Linked DNA regions of Homo sapiens. The protein of the gene in region 1 purifies or fractionates together with the protein of each later gene. This does not show direct contact. Each region holds a gene or a part of one and is shown on either strand. Other genes may lie near its edges.

What was found.
Region 2: the proteins of AARSD1 (region 1) and TAB1 purify together in Homo sapiens (affinity purification with mass spectrometry, with the first as the bait; 2 studies listed by BioGRID). This does not show direct contact.
Region 3: the proteins of AARSD1 (region 1) and HECTD1 purify together in Homo sapiens (affinity purification with mass spectrometry; 3 studies listed by BioGRID, with this or other methods). This does not show direct contact.

The regions. Positions count from the first base shown.
Region 1 is NC_000017.11:42,952,092-42,954,459, reverse strand, and holds part of AARSD1 (alanyl-tRNA editing protein Aarsd1), read left to right. Parts: intron 1-681; coding exon 682-736; intron 737-2,368. Other genes in the region: PTGES3L-AARSD1 protein, read left to right, coding at 682-736. UniProt on the Homo sapiens protein: Functions in trans to edit the amino acid moiety from incorrectly charged tRNA(Ala).
Region 2 is NC_000022.11:39,416,780-39,420,433, forward strand, and holds part of TAB1 (TGF-beta-activated kinase 1 and MAP3K7-binding protein 1), read left to right. Parts: intron 1-11; coding exon 12-98; intron 99-931; coding exon 932-1,070; intron 1,071-1,952; coding exon 1,953-2,066; intron 2,067-2,739; coding exon 2,740-2,851; intron 2,852-3,654. UniProt on the Homo sapiens protein: Key adapter protein that plays an essential role in JNK and NF-kappa-B activation and proinflammatory cytokines production in response to stimulation with TLRs and cytokines.
Region 3 is NC_000014.9:31,110,261-31,113,914, reverse strand, and holds part of HECTD1 (E3 ubiquitin-protein ligase HECTD1), read left to right. Parts: coding exon 1-38; intron 39-430; coding exon 431-638; intron 639-725; coding exon 726-811; intron 812-1,371; coding exon 1,372-1,499; intron 1,500-3,654. UniProt on the Homo sapiens protein: E3 ubiquitin-protein ligase which accepts ubiquitin from an E2 ubiquitin-conjugating enzyme in the form of a thioester and then directly transfers the ubiquitin to targeted substrates.

The DNA.
Region 1 (2,368 bases):
CCCATCTCAAAAATATAAAAAAAAAAAGAAATATGTTACATACCAGGCCTCCTGGGTTTGATATTAACATATTTACTGTAACTCTGTATCTTTTGTTTTTTGTGTTTTTTTTGAGATGGAGTCTTAGTGTGTCTGGAGTGCAGTGGCATGATCTCGGCTCAGTGTAACCTGTGCCTCCTGGGTCCAAGCGGTTCTCGTGCTTCAGCCTCCCGAGTAGCTGGGGGATCACAGGCATGTGCCACCACACCAGGCTAACTTTTGTATTTTTGGTAGAGCTGGGGTTTCCCCATGTTGGCCAGGCTGGTTTTGAACTCCTGACCTCAAGCAATCTGCCCACCTTGGCCTCCCAAAGTGCTGAGATTACAGGTGTGAGCCACTGTGTCCAGCCTGTATCTTTCTTTAGGACTGTCCCCTACCTCCTTTACTCTCTAACAGATTTCTGCTTATCCTGGTGAATCCTATTTAAGGGAGATGGAAACAAACCTGGAGGTTGATTACAAACTGCAGAGGCTGAGAAGGGCAGCTTGCTGGCTTTCAGCCAGTACTCTCTCTTGGCTAAGGGATATGGGACTTTATGTGTACATAGGCAGCAAGGCCAGCCTCAGAAGGAGGGGCCAGGCTTCCTGCAGTTTCACAGCCACCACTCCAACCTGGGTCTCATGTCTGTGTCCTTTGTTGTAGGAAGGAGGGTGATTCAGAGTTCATGAATATCATTGCCAATGAGATTGGGTCAGAGGTAAGAGGAGCATGAGATTCTCTACCCCGGCCTGGATAGAGACCTAGGGAGACATAAGTGAGGGGCGCTAGTTTAGCCAAAGTCCCTCCACATGAACACATGAGGAGGAGGAAATAGCCATTCATTCAATACTGTTTTCTTAGTACTAGCTATATGCCAAGCTCTGTTTTAGGTGTTGAGCTAGATCTATGTTATTGCTCTCTCTGGGGCTGTGATGTTTATTAGCTTCTGAGCTCCTTTCATCAGAGCTCTAGCTCCTCAAAGCCATTCAGGTTTATGTGTGCTGGGGATCCAATATTAGAAATATATCAGTGGGCTGGTCGCGGTGGCTCACGCATGTAATCCCAGCACTTTGGGAGGCCAAGGTGGGTGGATCACTTAAGATCAGGAGACCAGCCTAGCCAACATGGTGAAACCCCATCTCTACTAAAAATAGAAAAATCAGGCCAGGCATGGTGGCTCACGCCTGTAATTCCAGCACTTTGGGAGGCTGAGGCGGGTGGATTGCCTCAGCTCAGGAGTTCGAGACCACCCTGGGCAACATGGTAAAACCCTATCTCTACTAAAATACAAAAAATTAGCTAGGCGTGGTGGCATGCGCCTGTAATCCCAGCTACTCGGGAGGCTGAGGCATGAGAATCTCTTGAGCCTGGTAGGCAGAGGTTGCAGTGAGCTGAGATTGTGCCACAGCACTCTAGCATGGGCTACAGAGTGAGATTCTGTCTCAAAACAGAAGACAAAAATTTGCTGGGTGTGGTGGCAGGTGCCTGTAGACCCAGCTACTTGGGAGGTTGAGGCAGGAGAATTGCTTGAACCCTGGAGGCTGAGGTTGCAGTGAGCCGAGATTGCGCCACTGCACTCCAGCCTGGGCAACACAGACTGTCTCCAAAAAAAAAAAAAAAAAGTAAATACAGGAGTGGGCAAGCCCCTTTGAAAGCCATCCCCGTCCATTTTCCTCTTCCTCTGGCTTTACTTACTCTTCCCACTCCTGATGGTCTCTAGCCTAGAGATTTCCAGGTCTTTTGTTTGTTTGTTTGTTTGTTTGTTTTTTTCAGAGACAGAGTCTTGCTCTGTCACCCAGGCTGGAGTACAGTGGCGTGATTATGGCTCACTGCAGTCTTGAACTCCTGGGCTCAAGCAGTCCTCCCACGTCAGCCTCCTGAGTAGTTGGGACTGCAAGCATGAGCCACCATGCCCCACTATCTCTTTTGTATTTACTCCAGAACCCTTCTTTGGAATGCCTACTGTGGGTAAAGCGTTGTGTATCTCTCTTTTCATAATTCTTCTGTATAGACAGAACTGATTCTCAAGAAGCTCATATTCTAGTCTGGGAGACAAATATGTATGTCGACATTTATAATTCAGAATGATAGAGTGATGAATGCTAGAGGTGGAGGAGCACATTACCTGAAGGATAGGGAGGTTTCAGGGGAGGGGCCCTTGAAGACTGCTTAGAGGTCATCAGACAGACAAGGGGCAGAGGCGGCCAGGCAGAGGGAAACCTGGTGGTTTAGGCAGTGGCAGGGAAAGGATGTGTGGTGGGGAAAAGTTTGCAAGAGTGAAACCATGAAAGGCATTTTCTGCTTAGCCAGGATCAGCAGTCTTCTGCTGCCTTCTTAATGTTTCACCTAA
Region 2 (3,654 bases), on another chromosome or scaffold:
TGTCCCCCTAGGCCTTCGATGTGGTGGAGAGGAGCTTCCTGGAGTCCATTGACGACGCCTTGGCTGAGAAGGCAAGCCTCCAGTCGCAATTGCCAGAGGTAATTTCCCCAGCCGACACCCAGGGGAGTCAAGTCCAGGCCCAGCTTTGCAAGGAGCATGGACTCATCTACTTTCTTGACATTACTGGGCCAGAGCAACAGGCGTTAGGGAGCAGTTCCTGATGGGTGACACTGGTGTGTGGCCACAGGTGAGGGACCTCGCTGCTCTGCTGTGGGCAGCTGCATGCTAAAGCTCAGCAGTGTCTGGGCAGTGGTGGACATGAGGAAGGGCTTTTCCCAGTCCTTCGTCCTGAATGGGTCCCCGCCCTTGTCAACCACCTGCTCACATCGCCTACTGCCACCTGCAGCGCTTACCTCTGTGCTGTGAGTTCGGTCATCTCCAGCTTTCTGGAAGAACCTTAGCCTGGAGCTGTAGCGAAGGCTTCATCTTGGCTGTGCCATGGACCATCTGTCTGTCTGTCCCCCGGGCCCTCGGATCTTTGCTCTTAAGAGCAAAGGGAGGCCGGGCATGGTGGCTCACGCCTGTAATCCCAGCACCTTGGGAGGCCGAGGCGGGCGGATCACAAGGTCAGGAGATCAAGACCATCCTGGCTAACATGGTGAAACCCCGTCTCTACTAAAAATACAAAAAATTAGCTGGGCGTGGTGGTGGGCGCCTTGTAGTCCCAGCTACTCTCGAGGCTGAAGCAGGAGAATGGTGTGAACCTGGGAGGCGGAGCTTGTAGTGAGCCGAGATCATGCCACTGCACTGTAGCCTGGGGGACACAGCGAGACTCCATCTCAAAAAAAAAAAAAAGAGTAAAGGGAGTGGAGAGGGCTAGGAAGATGGTCCAGAGTTCTGTCCTGCCCTGACCCTCTGTTGATGGTTGTAGGGAGTCCCTCAGCACCAGCTGCCTCCTCAGTATCAGAAGATCCTTGAGAGACTCAAGACGTTAGAGAGGGAAATTTCGGGAGGGGCCATGGCCGTTGTGGCGGTCCTTCTCAACAACAAGCTCTACGTCGCCAATGTCGGTGAGCCCCCTCCTGTCCCAGGGCAGGGAGGACTGGGGAGAGGTCAGCCACAGGGGTCGGTGCATTATTTGACAATCTGCTTTCCAGACACTTCACGCACTTTAAACCCAGGGTCTCCTGAGACCGTTGGGTATGTCCCTCTCCACAGTGACGCCTCAGTCCCAACTGGAAGGGAGAAAGGACGGGATGGGAGACAGGTGTCCTGGCCTTTAGTCCCTATTCTGCTTCTTAACTCATTCTGGACGAGTCGTATCCCATTCTGGGTGGCCTTGGGGGCCGCTGCTTCTGGAAGAGGTTACCTGGCCATGAATAACCAACCAGTATCCCCATGAACAGCTGCGAGATGGGGCTAGGTGACAGGGACATTGGGGTTTGTGAGAAGACCAGACAGGTGCAGGTTTCAGTAGAAAGGACTCTGTAGAGACCCTTCTGATGATGCTGCCTTTTTTTAATACTCCAGTGGAAAATTTTCCACAATATAGAACAATAGAGTGACTGATATTTAATGAACATTCATGCGCCCATCCCCAATCCCAGCAGTTATCAACTGTGGCCAGCCTTCTTTGTCCCCACGTTCTCTATTTTGAAGCAAATGCCAGACACTGTATCATGTTATCTGTAAATATTTCAGTCTGTATCTCTAGAGAAGAGGTCTGTTTTATTAAGATCATAATCCTATGATTACACTGAAAAAGTTAAACCCAATTCTTTCGTATCACCAGCTGTCCCTAACTGGTGACTCACCCCGTTGGTCTGAGCCTGTTTTGCCCATTTCAGGTATTTCCATGTGTGAAATGCCTGCCTTTTCCCTCTCTGCCTTCCCGGTATGCCCTATTTCTCTCTGTGTGTAGTCTTTGCTTAGCTGTTCACATTCTGCCACAGGTACAAACCGTGCACTTTTATGCAAATCGACAGTGGATGGGTTGCAGGTGACACAGCTGAACGTGGACCACACCACAGAGAACGAGGATGAGCTCTTCCGTCTTTCGCAGCTGGGTGAGTGGGGAGAGTGGGAGCGGAAGCTGATCCCCATGGGCTCACCCTTCGCCTGCCTTTGGTGGTGGGGTAGAGAGGCGTGTGGTAGAGGGGCTGTGATCTTGGGCTCCCCAGCCAGCCTGCCTGGGGTTCATTCCCAGCACTGCCGCTTACTGGTTGGTGATTGGAACTTAAGTTTTCTGTGCCTCAGATCCCCCGCTGTGTAATGAGGATAATAGTAACCTACCTCGGGATGCTAGGAGGATTCAGTTAGTGCATGTGAAATGCTTCCTGGAGTGCCTGGCACACAGAAGACACTTACTGTTATTGGTGGAGACTGAAAGAGGCCAAAGAAGTCCAGGGAGCCCAGCTGCTGCTGAGCTGCTCCTTCCCTTCCCAGTGAGCTCCAGGCAGATGTGGGGCACACGGGATGGGCAGGGAGACGGCAGGCAAGCTGCTCCGTGCCAGGTGGTGCCTGGAGGACGGGCTCTGAGTGAGGTGTGTCGTGATGGGCGTGGGGACTGAGGACACCAGGGACTTTGGGTCAGCTGCTCTCCCAGGTGCCCTGGTGTTGTCTTCATTTCCTATTCAGTGGGTCCTTATTGCCTTCTTCCCATGACTGTGTCTCTGTCCCCTTCTTTTTGTTCCTCTTTGTGAACAAGAAGCAGGATTGTTGCACTGTTTCCCTCCGTAGGCTTGGATGCTGGAAAGATCAAGCAGGTGGGGATCATCTGTGGGCAGGAGAGCACCCGGCGGATCGGGGATTACAAGGTTAAATATGGCTACACGGACATTGACCTTCTCAGGTAGGTGCCAGCCCAGCTGTCCCCTGTGCTTGAAAGAACAGAAGGTCCTAGGGAGGCCAAGATGGGAGGATTGATTGTGCTGGGAGGTCGAGGCTGCAGTGAGCCGTGATCATGCCACTGCACTCCAGCCTGGGCAACAGAGCAAGACCCTGTCTCAAAAAAAAAAAAAGGTCCAGAAGGCCTGGGGCAGACGCAGACTGTAGGCCCCAGTGACACATGTGCAGTCAAAGTAGTTCAGAGCCCAGGCAAACTCTTTCTTCCTCCCAGAGAGGTTGGTTTGGGGCAGGTTAGGCCCAGCAGGCCAGGAGTTGGGTACTGTAGAAACAAGGGGTGGAGTTGAGCTGGGCCAAAGCTGAGGGCAGCAACTAGTGCCACAAGGGAGGCAGGCGAAGCCAGAGTTGGCATGGGATGGACAGACCAGGCCTGTTGGTCGGTGCTGCCCATGGCTGCAGCAGAGGTGTGAGATGAATTGTGTATTTCCCTCTGAGGACACCTCCTCTGGACATCACCCCAGCGCTCATGGCAGCAGAATGGGCAGTCATCATCACACGGCCAAGCCCGTGCAGAGCTCTGGATGTACCTTCTTTTATGCATTCCCTACTCAGGCCCCCTGAGGCAGTCACTGCCATCACCCCAGAGGCATTTTCATAAGAGGAAACTGAGGCATGGAGACATCAGGCAGCCCACCCTGGTCATGGGGCTTGAACACAGGCAGCCTGAATTTGGAATATGTGTCCTTAACCGTCAGGTAACCTGTATGTGAAGTGTTGGTTGGGGAGATAGGCGCGTCCACTTGCCTGATG
Region 3 (3,654 bases), on another chromosome or scaffold:
AAAACAGAAATTGTTCTCAGCTCATAGCTGCATATAAGGTATATATTGGCATCAAAACACTATTTTGATTGCAAATGGCTTCGTGCTTTGTTTTGCAGCTTTGGAAGCTTCTTAAGGAACAGCAGTTCATTGAGACATAATTTTAAAAATGAGGTTGAATTAACACTGTTAATGCACAAATTCTAAAATTTCAAATATGGCTGGTAGCATTGGATCTGAATGCAGACTTTGACCATGGCTTAGAGTGGTTATATTTTATTTGGGAATTTTAATGGTTTAGAATGCCTTGATTTATGTCTTGTGTTATGTTTTTATTTAAAAAGAAGGCACTTTAAAAAATTCCAACCCTTTCATAGTGGTATTGATACAATGATACACTGTTTTTCTTGAAAATGTGATTAATGGCCAGTTTTTCTAATTGTTTCTATAGGATTTTTGTGAGCATGGAACAAAGTCTGGGTTAAACCAGGGGGCCATTTCTACTCTTCAAAGTAGTGATATTCTTAATTTAACAAAAGAACAACCTCAGGCCAAAGCAGGCAATGGACAGAACTCTTGTGGAGTAGAAGATGTCCTTCAGCTTCTGCGTATTCTATATATAGTTGCAAGTGACCCTTATTCAAGAATATCCCAGGAAGGTCTGTAAGAAGCCTTGTTTCATTTCTATAGCAGTTTTAAAGCAAGTCAGTTTATATTTTTATTAATTTTATTAATTAATTTTATAGATGGTGATGAACAGCCTCAGTTTACTTTTCCACCAGATGAATTCACTAGCAAAAAAATTACAACAAAAATATTACAGCAGATTGAGGTAATAAAATCAGACAGCTGAACTCTTCATTCTATTACTGTTGGACTTTTCCTAATATTCCCTTTACTTTCTTTTCTACCTCTCACCATCTTTCCCTTCCCTCTGATTGGTAATTTGAGCTATATGGTCCTTTGCATTTATTTCCTAATTACAGGTTTATAATTGACTTGGTAATTTTTAATAATTGCCTTATAGGGTCAGGTGTGGTGGCTCATGCCTGTAATTCCAGCATTTTGGGGGCCAAGGTGGGTGTATCGTTAGAGGCTAGGAGTTCGAGACCAGCCTGGCCAATATGGCGAAACCCAGTCTCTACTAAAAATACAAAAATTAGCTGGGCACGGTGGCACATGCCTATAATCCCAGCTACTTGGGTGGCTAGGGCAGGAGAATCGCTTGAACCCAGGAGGCAGAGGCTGCAGTGAGCCGAGATCGTACCACTGCACACCAGCCTGGGCAACAGAGTGAGACTCTGTCTCAAAAAAAAAAATGAACGAATGAATGAATGCATGCATGCATGAATGCCTTATAGCACTAAGACATTATTATTTGTTAATTCGCAGGAACCATTGGCACTGGCAAGTGGGGCTCTGCCAGACTGGTGTGAACAATTAACCAGCAAATGTCCTTTTCTAATACCATTTGAAACTAGACAGCTTTATTTCACATGTACAGCATTTGGCGCCTCAAGGTAAGAAGCCTTTTTTTTATGTTTTTAGAATAAGTATGCTTTTATGTTATGTAAGTTGAAAATGTACAACTATACTGTCAAGACTGATAGAGGGAATATATTATCTTGTATTCTTATAAAGAATAGTCAGCATTGCCTTTTGGCCTGAACTACCAATCTTCTAGTAATTCGCCAAAATGACTAATCCAAAGGAAAGGAGGAGAGATACCCGATAGATGTTTTCTAGGTCTTTTAGAAAACATGGAGTTGTTCCTTTGGCCACGTATATGCAAATCTAAAAGAGAGGTGATACTGTAGACATTAAGGGAATGGGTACTGTTCAAAAAGGAATGCCCCACAAGTGTTACCGTGGCTAAACTGGAAGAGTCTACAGTGTTACCCAGCAGGCTGTTGGCATTGCTGTTTTTTTGTTTTTGTTTTTGTTTTTGTTTTTTTGAGACAGAGTCTCGCTCTGTCGCCCAGGCAGGAGTGCAGTGGTGTGATCTCGGCTCACTGCAACCTCCGCCTCCCAGGTTCAAGCGATTCTCCTGCCTCAGCCCCACTGAGTGGCTGGGATTACAGGTGCACGCCACCACGCGTGGCTAATGGCATTGTTGTAAACAAACAAGGGCAAGATTCTTACCAAGAGAATTAATGTGCATATTGAGCACATTAAGCACTCTAAGAGCCGAGATAGCTTCCTGAAACACATGAAGGAAAATGATCAGAAAAAGAAGGAAGCCAAAGAGAAAGGTACCTGCATTTAGCTGAAGTGCCAGCCTGTTCCACCCAGAGAAGCGCGCTGTGTGAAAACCAAGGGAAAGAAGTCTGAGCTGCTGGAACCTCTTCTCTGTGAATTCATGCATAATAGTGTTTAAAAAAAATAGCCAGGCGCGGTGGCTCACACCTGTAATCCCAGCACTTTGGGAGGCCGAGGCGGGCAGATCATGAGGTTAGGAGATCGAGACCATCCTGGCTAACGTGGTGAAACCCCATCTCTACTAAAAATACAAAAAGTTAGCTGTGTGTGGTGGTGGGCACCTGTAGTCTCAGCTACTTGGGAGGCTGAGGCAGGAGAATGGCGTGAACCTGGGAAGTGGAGCTTGCAGTGAGTAGAGATTGTGCCACTGCACTCCAGCCTGGGCGACAGAGCGAGACTCCATCTCAAAAAAATAAAAAATAAAGATAAAAATAAAAGACCTCTGGACTGTAAAAATGTTTCTCTTCCTTGAGTAGAAGTGTGGTGTCCTCTCCCCCAAAGAAATACTTCAGGCAAATTTTAATTTTGTCCTAAGCCTAATTGTGTAATGTCTTTACTATTCAAATTTAATGTATTTCTTGCTGAAAGATGTGAGATGGCTTATTGTGCAACAAATTACTCAATTGGTTAGAAAATGGTCAGATATTATTTACGAAATATTTGTACTACTTTGAAGATAGTCCCTCTAATCATGGAAGAAGTAATTTACCAAAAAAAAAAAAGCATTTAAAAAGTTTCTGTTTTCAGGCTGGGCACGGTGGCCCATGCCTATAATTCCAGCACTTTGGGAGGCCAAGGCAGACACATCACTCGAGGCCAGGAGTTCGAGACCAGCCTGGCCAATGTGGCAAAACCCCATCTCTACAAAAAAACACAAAAATTAGCTGGGCGTAATTCCAGCTTTTTAGGAGGCTGAGGCATAAGAATTTGCTTGAACCCGGGAGGCAGAGGTTGCAGTGAGCTGAGATTGCACCACTGCACTCCAGCCTGGGCAACAGAGCAAGACTCATTGTAGGTGCTCAATAAATATTTTGTTGAATGATTGTTTACCTTAAGTACTCTTCCAAAATAGTTGTAAAAAAAAAGTTATAATTTAAACTGTTTGTTTTCTTCCCTGATAGTTACATTTTTGTACCATTTAATGCCATTTACAAAGCATTTATATACATAGAACTATAGGCATGTTGTGATAACTGGCATTGATTATAATTTGTTTTATAAATGAGGAAATTGATTCTGCACGTACTTAGCTGATTTGCCTAAGATCATGAGAAAATAGTAGCACACATGAGAGTAGAACCTTCAGCTTCTTATTCCTAATTGTCGGTTCTTCCTCCCACCATAAATGGATTGTTATTAAAAAAAAGAAAATGTGGCCGGGTGTGGCGGCTCATGCCTGTAATCATAGCACTTTGG